Linked DNA regions of Homo sapiens. The protein of the gene in region 2 interacts with the protein of the main gene of each other region in a pairwise test. Each region holds a gene or a part of one and is shown on either strand. Other genes may lie near its edges.

Region 1 (4,101 bases), on a different chromosome or scaffold from region 2:
AAATCCATGCAAGGAGTCCTGCCTACCTTCTGGAAGTTGAAGGGAGTCTTTATCCAGAGTTTGAGGAAGAGAATCAGATCCTAGCAAAAGGCAGGTTAAAACAATTTTTCATTAAAAATGCATTATAAAGTGCTTTTATGAGGTGTTTCCCTCCTTAATTCCCTAAAGGTAACCATCATCCCAGTTTGATATTTATTTGTTGTTTCTATTTTTCCCTGCTCATTTTACATGGTCTGTTCATACACGATTTCACTGTAAACAATTCCATATACAATTTCTCATTTGAGACTCAGAACAGCCTCATGGAAGTTTATGTAATTAACCCCATTAGGCAAATTCAAGGAATTTGAGGATCAGAGGTAATGCCTGACTAAGGTCAGCGTAGCTAGCTGAGCTGGGACTGTTAGGTGTGAACTGCTGAAGGCTGTCATTGCATGTTAGCATAGAATCTGAACCTACCTGGGAGTTCGCTGCAGGAACCATTTCTCTCTTGGTCCTCAGCTCTCACTAAAACCAACCTTAGTCATGCAGTTAAGCAAGCAGGGCCTCAGAAGTGAGCCTAGAACAGCCCTGGCTCTCATGGAGGTACTTCCCCCTTCCCGCACTCTGCAGCCTCAGCTCCACCTGGAAGCGCCTCTTCCCGGACACTCCCGTTCCCGCCTGCATTCCCGTCCAATTCGACTCCCAAATGGTGTGAACTCCCTTTACCAGAGCTGTCTGGGGGGACCAGGAGGCCTGAAATCGCATGGTGCAGGCTGGCTGGGTGCTCCAGGCTGGGAGTGACCCCGTACAGAACGAAGTGCAGGTCCTCCTCCGTGAACTGGAACCGAGCAGGGGACTTCCCTTCTTGGTTGGAGGGTTTGGGACCATCCTCTGACTGCTTGCTGGGTGAGCAAGGTAATAACTGGGAGGTCCTCAGCCCCTCAGGTAACAGAGAAGCATCCGCAGGGGGCGGTGGAATTAAAGTGTCAGGTCCACAACACGGGCCACTCTCGTTGTCGCCACCAATGATTTGGTGGCCCAGATCTTCACTGCTGGCACCCGCGTACTCGTGGCTGCTGCTCAGGAAGGGCGGCACTTCCCTGGGGACGTGGGGAATTGGGTACCACGGTGGCAGCTTGCTGTACCAGGGCAGATCGTAGAGAGGCTCCCTCTGTAGGCCCAGACCCGGGCTCAGCAAGGGAGGCGCCATCCGGAAGGGGAAGGGGGGCATGGCGGGGGCAGCAGACGCTGCGGCCTCCAGCTGCCGGAAAGGTTGGAAGTCTTCCTCCACGGTGGCCAGGCTGTTTCTGTAGTGTCCATAGGACGGGAAAGGCGTGTAGTACGCGGCCAGGTTCTGCGGGCTGCTCTCCGGCGGGTAGCACACCTTGTCCTGAGGCACGGCCTCACTTGGCCGGGGTAGAGCCATCCCGGGACCGCACGCTCGGCGGCTCTGCAGAAAAGCGGGCGCCGCTGAGGACACCGCGCGGGAGCTTCCCGGGGTCCGACCCGCGCCTCCCCACCAGCCTCCTCCACCCCAGCCAGCCCCAGATCCAAGGGAACAGGATAAACGCCCCCAGTCCGATCCCGCCAGCCCGCTCCCACAATTAAGACAAAACGAAAAAACAGCAATAGAAGCAAACACAAAAAAGCCCCAAACGGAAATCTGCCGGGATCCTGCCCTACTCTAAATTCCGGGTTAGTGTTGCCTTCCCCTTCCCTCTCCAAGCACCCCTTCCCTAAGCCCGGCCGCCTTCCCACACCCGCTCTCCGCTTTCGGCCCCCAACCCGGTTCCTGCAAAACCCATTGAAGTTCCCTTTCCTTCCTTCTTCTCAGTCCTACAAAACTCGTTGGTAGGGTCTGTGGGAGCCGCGGGGCCCTGCCAACCTCGGGGCTGGGCCGGGAGCCGAGCGCAGGCGGTCGGAGGGCAATGGAGCAAGCGACAGCTCCAGGCGCTCCTGGGCCCTCGGCTGGGAGGGAAGAGCCGAGGACCCTGGGTCGCACCGCGCAGATGGAGACGCGCTCCCAGAGCCCCCGGGCAGGTCCAGGGACCCCGCGACCTGCTCTGGCCCAGCGGTGTGACCCCGCGGGTCCTGGCGGTCCTGACTGCCCGCAGGGGAGGGGCGCGCCACTTTTGGCTGCCCTAGGATGCGCCGCCTGAACCTCTTTTCCCTCGCGGGCAGCGTCCGCCACATTCCCCGGGTTCCTCGGAAACTCCAATCATTCTACCAGGACTATTGGGGCCTGGGGTAGCCCCTCGGGAGCCGCGTGGACGAGCCCTGGCCAGGTGGGAGCGAAGAGCCTCGGCGACTGCCAGTCCTCCCGCCCCCGCACCGCCGGGAAAGGATGGCGTTTTAATAGACAGGCAGCAAGTTCACCGAGGCTGAAGAATGAAGCCCCTTCAGGGCCGGCGGGTCTTGAGATCAATGAGCCCAATAAGAAAACCAAGCAGGGTCATGACTCAGAAATTAAAGAACACGGGGTCAGGAGAAGAGGTCAGCCACGACACAGGCAGCGGCCCGTCTCCTCCCGATCCTCCAAAGGCGCCCTTCTCCTAGCCTCCTCCGACCTCAGGGATCTGCAACTTGGGATTCAAAGCCCCCGAGAGGGCAGAACGACCATCCAAAACGAACTGCGCCAGCGAGTGCTGCCGCCCTCCCCAACGGCCCTGGAAGACCACCGCCCCGGGCCCCAGGCGCGTCCTGTCCCGTGCCTACCTCCGACACCACCTCCAAGAGCGCCACCGCGGAGCGGGCGCCTCCTGGACGCTGCGGGGCCACTCGGGCTCGGTAGGCCACTCGGGCTCGGTAGACTTCGGGCGGGCCCTGAGGGCTGAGCCAGGCTTAAGAGGGCGGGCGGGGCCGCGGGGCATCGACAGGTCGAGGGTAGGGAATTGACCCGGCCCACGCAGATCCCCGCGTCGTCTTCTCCCCGCCCACCGCAGCCATTGGCCGACTCTCGACTCGCCCTCTGTCCCCTGGGGTCGCTCACTTAACTCATCAGTTTTCCAAACCCTCCCTGGGACCCTAGTGGCGAGCACTCGCCGCTGGCCTTCTAGGGCAGGCAGTATTGCCGCTCCAGGCGTGCGGAGTCGGGGAGAAAAAAACCGAACACGTGTGCTACCCAGGGCCCCCAGATAAGCCCCTCCGCGCGCACACACACCCTGAACCGGAGTCCAGAAGGCCGGACTCGCGTCCCGGGGTCGAGCCCCTTACTCTCCGCTCCCAGTTCGGAAGATCCCAGCCTGCCCGAAGGCGGCGTCTGACCCGCTGGTGGACCTGGTGGGTGTCTGTTCCTGATACCTGGGGACGAGGCGGGAGCGCCTTGAGCGCTGGGAAGCTTCGCCTCGCGAGTCCCCGGCAGTGACACGTGGGAGCGTTGGGCCCGGCACCCCCGACGCTTCCGAGGTTTCGGGTGGTCGTTTTGCTCTCTCGGGGGCTTTTATTCCTTAAGTGGCTTTAAACGACCGAGGATGGGCCTCCCGCGCCGCCGCAGCTGTCACTTCCTTCGGGAAAGGCTAGCGACCTTGGACGCGCAGGCTCTGAAAACCAAGGTCCAGACCCATACCGAGCGCCCAAAGACCGCATTTGAATTCTCCTCGCCGGCCATTGAGGGAGAGAAAGGAACGCTTAGTTCCATTCACATTCACAGAAAGAAGCGCCGAGGGTGGGGGAAACGCAGTCTTGCCGGGTGAGCCGGGACAGGTTCCTCGCCTGCCCCCCGGCCGCTGCTTCCTCTTAGCTGAATGGGGAGCGACCCGCCCCGGGCGCGGCCTTCGGGGCTGAAGACTGAGGTGCAGCCTCACCCCCGGCCTGGCAGCGGCTTGGAAGAGAGAGGGAAAGGAGGAACATCTACCCGGCTAAGAGACGCCGCCAGAGTCCCTAAAGCTGGCGGGGGACGGAGGCCGGGGTCCCGGATCTTCAGAGCGCCCGCAGCCGGGCTTCTGGGCTCCTCGGTGCGGGGAACCTGACCCTGTAGCCTTCGCCAGGGCGCGGCGGGGCTGCAAGAAGGGAGGAAGGAGTGGGACTAGAGCCTTCGAGGGCGCGGGCGGCGTGCACTCAGCCTTGTCTCCCCGCGCGCCCTGCCGCCTGCTTGCCCCCTTTGCTGCACCGGGTGGCCCT
Region 2 (2,958 bases):
TTTCGGAGGACTATACTTTTTACTACGGGGTATTACAAAGAAGTGACAGATGAATTCTCTGTTTGGTTCTAATTTGAGAATTGCTTTGGGAAAAAAGAAAGGGAAACAGAATCATCCCTGACTCAGAGCAGAGGCACTAATGTTCTCTGTGCAGACTATTTGTCCTGTGCAGAGAAAGGTTCAAGGCAGCCAGGGGCTGTGACCTGTTGAGCTGGTGGCTGGTCAGAGCTACCTGGCTGTACAGCCCAGGAATGGCTGCTAATTTAAAGCTCTTTGGGCAACCTCTAGTTCCCTCAGGTGCAGAGCCAGTTCTGCACAAAGGACATCAAAATTGACTGGAGCCCTGAGGGGGTCTAAAGGAGCCCACCCTCCTAGCAGGAAGCCAGCCTGGCATTGGGGAGGATGCCAGCTGAGGCTGGAGGGAGGGCAACTCTGTCCCCAGAGATAACTTCCTGGGGATCGTAGCATGTTGAATTTTCACTTAGCGTTAACTTTAGTTTTTTATTGGTGGAAAATGATTTCAAATCTTATTGTTTTAAGATCACTTAAAAATTTGAGAATGAAATTGATTCACATTGTGACATATCCATAGCAAACTCGGGCTTTGGGCTGGCTTTCCCTCTTTGCTTAGTATTTATCTGTTCTGTCTTCTTTGCCCTGCTGGTGTGTGCTTAGAAAAATGAACAATCATTTTAATGTTATATTCAGCAGAACAAATTGGCAGTGAACACACTGTAAAGTTAGTATGCTTTTCAGGTTGACATTGCAGTGGTATAACCCTACAAAAGTAGATAACAGGGTTAAACAAAAATTGATTTTAGCTCTTTATTTGTACGTTTTTTCTTCAGCTTGGATTTTCAGTGTTGATGCTGCATGTTATAGGCTGTGAAGTTTGACAATACCCAAAAGAGAATGAAAGTGGAAATGAGAGGAATTTGGTAACACGGTGTTTTTAATGTGAACTTTTTGTTTAAAGCAAATGCAGCCCTGAGGATTTGGCTACTGCATATAACAACAGGGGGCAAATCAAGTACTTCAGGGTTGATTTTTATGAAGCCATGGATGACTACACATCTGCCATAGAAGTCCAACCCAATTTTGAAGTTCCATATTACAACAGAGGGTTGATACTGTATAGGCTGGGTAAGAATTTTTTTTCTTTTTGAGTTTTGTCATTGACTGTATTCTGTTATTTCAGAGCTTTCAAATGTTGTAAAACTAACGTGGTAATCAAATTTTAAAGTTCTGTGAAATTTAGGTTTAGAGCTTGGAACAAAGGAAGTGTCCCTGAGTTTATTTTAGGCTTTTGATAGGCGTTATAGATCACAGCAGAGCACTGGGGTGGGAATTGGACCTGGGCGCAGGAGCAGGGGTGACCCCATTACTTTGTGCTTGTGCATTCCCAGCTGTGAAATGAGGGCAATTCAGATGTTCACCTGTGAAACTTTTCTGAGTTAAAATCTTTGAAGACACACAAGACAATAGAAAGTGAAGTTTAGATTCTTGGATTAAAGGGACCATAGGTAGTGTTTCTTCATTTAAAGTGTCAAAAAGAAAATTAGTTCCCGTTTCTTAATTTTACTGCAATTATGTAAAACAGGTGATACAGTTTTATTAAAATTTTAAGATGATTGATAATATTTACCTGTTAAATCTCAATAAATAAACCCATAGCTAATTTTAGGTGTATTATTCCCTAAGGGCACACAAAATTACTTTGATATACACATCTCTATATTATTAAGATAAAAAGATTCCTTTACTAGAAGTGACTGAAAGCTCATAAATATAAAAGCAAAAGTACATGTATCAAAGCTTTTCCATGAATAATATATAGAAATACTCGGTTTCTTTTCTCTTTTCCATTTTTTGGGTTCTGGTACAGGATATTTTGATGATGCTTTGGAAGATTTCAAGAAGGTCTTAGACTTAAATCCTGGATTTCAAGATGCTACTTTGAGCTTAAAACAGACTATTCTAGACAAAGAAGAAAAACAAAGAAGAAATGTTGCAAAAAATTATTGATATTTTTAACTTAATGGAAGTATTGATTCATGATCCTTACATCTGCATCTAGTTATCAGTAATTTAGATATTGAGCTATTTTGATTTATATTTAAGAAATTAATACATTAGCACTGAAAGTTAAATAGTGTGTTTAAGGTAGTTAATTTCAGGTTGAATGGGTTTTTTTTAATGAAGTGTAAATAATACCAATGTATAAGTGTATATTATTATATTAAATATTATAGTAAAAAGGAATGTGTGGTATTTTCTTCAGCAAAACTATTTTTGTGATTTTTTTATTCTCAACTTTTTATTTAAAAAATGTTACATCTGCAGAAAAGTTGAAAGTATAATAAACTCTTCAGTTAAATTCATGAGTTGTTAATATTGTGCCACATTTGCTTTTTCTATTTAAATATATAACTTTTTGCTGAAACATTTGAAAATAAGGTGACGAGGTCACAGTACTTCGCCCCTAAATATTTCAGCCTACATTTTCTAAGATTGAGGACATCCTCCTTTATAACCACAATACCATTATAATACCTAATAAAATGAATAATTCTGTAATGTCAGCCATATCCAGCCCATATTCCAAAGTGTGTAGATTTTTATTTGGATCTAGAGCCAATCAGGTTTCAATTGCATTTTTTTTTTTTATGTTTCTCTCAGTTCTTTTAATCTAGTCCCCTGTCCATTTTCTTGCCCTAGCATTGGCTTTGAGAGAAAGGCTATTTTATATAGCTAGGCTAGAGAGACATAACATTTAGGCTTAAAAATAAACATGTCCTACAATTTGAAAGAGTTCAGCTTGAATTACACTTGATTTTCTCAAGTAATCATTGATAAAAATAGGTTAAGATTTAAATATTGAACATATTTTCTGTCTCTGGATAATGACAATTGTTATCAACATTTACTGAATACTATAAGCCAAGCACTGTTCAAATC

The links. Proteins that work in one complex are often made in the same cells at the same time.
Region 1: the proteins of TTC32 (region 2) and PRDM14 interact in binary tests that used the Homo sapiens proteins (3 or more experiments, as listed by UniProt).

Annotation. Positions count from the first base shown.
Region 1 is NC_000008.11:70,068,453-70,072,553, forward strand, and holds the start of PRDM14 (PR domain zinc finger protein 14), read right to left. Parts: upstream 2,801-4,101; 5' UTR 2,698-2,800; intron 1,433-2,697; 5' UTR 1,409-1,432; coding exon 709-1,408; intron 81-708; coding exon 27-80; intron 1-26. UniProt on the Homo sapiens protein: Transcription factor that has both positive and negative roles on transcription. Required for the maintenance of embryonic stem cell identity and the reacquisition of pluripotency in somatic cells.
Region 2 is NC_000002.12:19,896,054-19,899,011, reverse strand, and holds the end of TTC32 (tetratricopeptide repeat protein 32), read left to right. Parts: intron 1-976; coding exon 977-1,143; intron 1,144-1,885; coding exon 1,886-2,025; 3' UTR 2,026-2,381; downstream 2,382-2,958.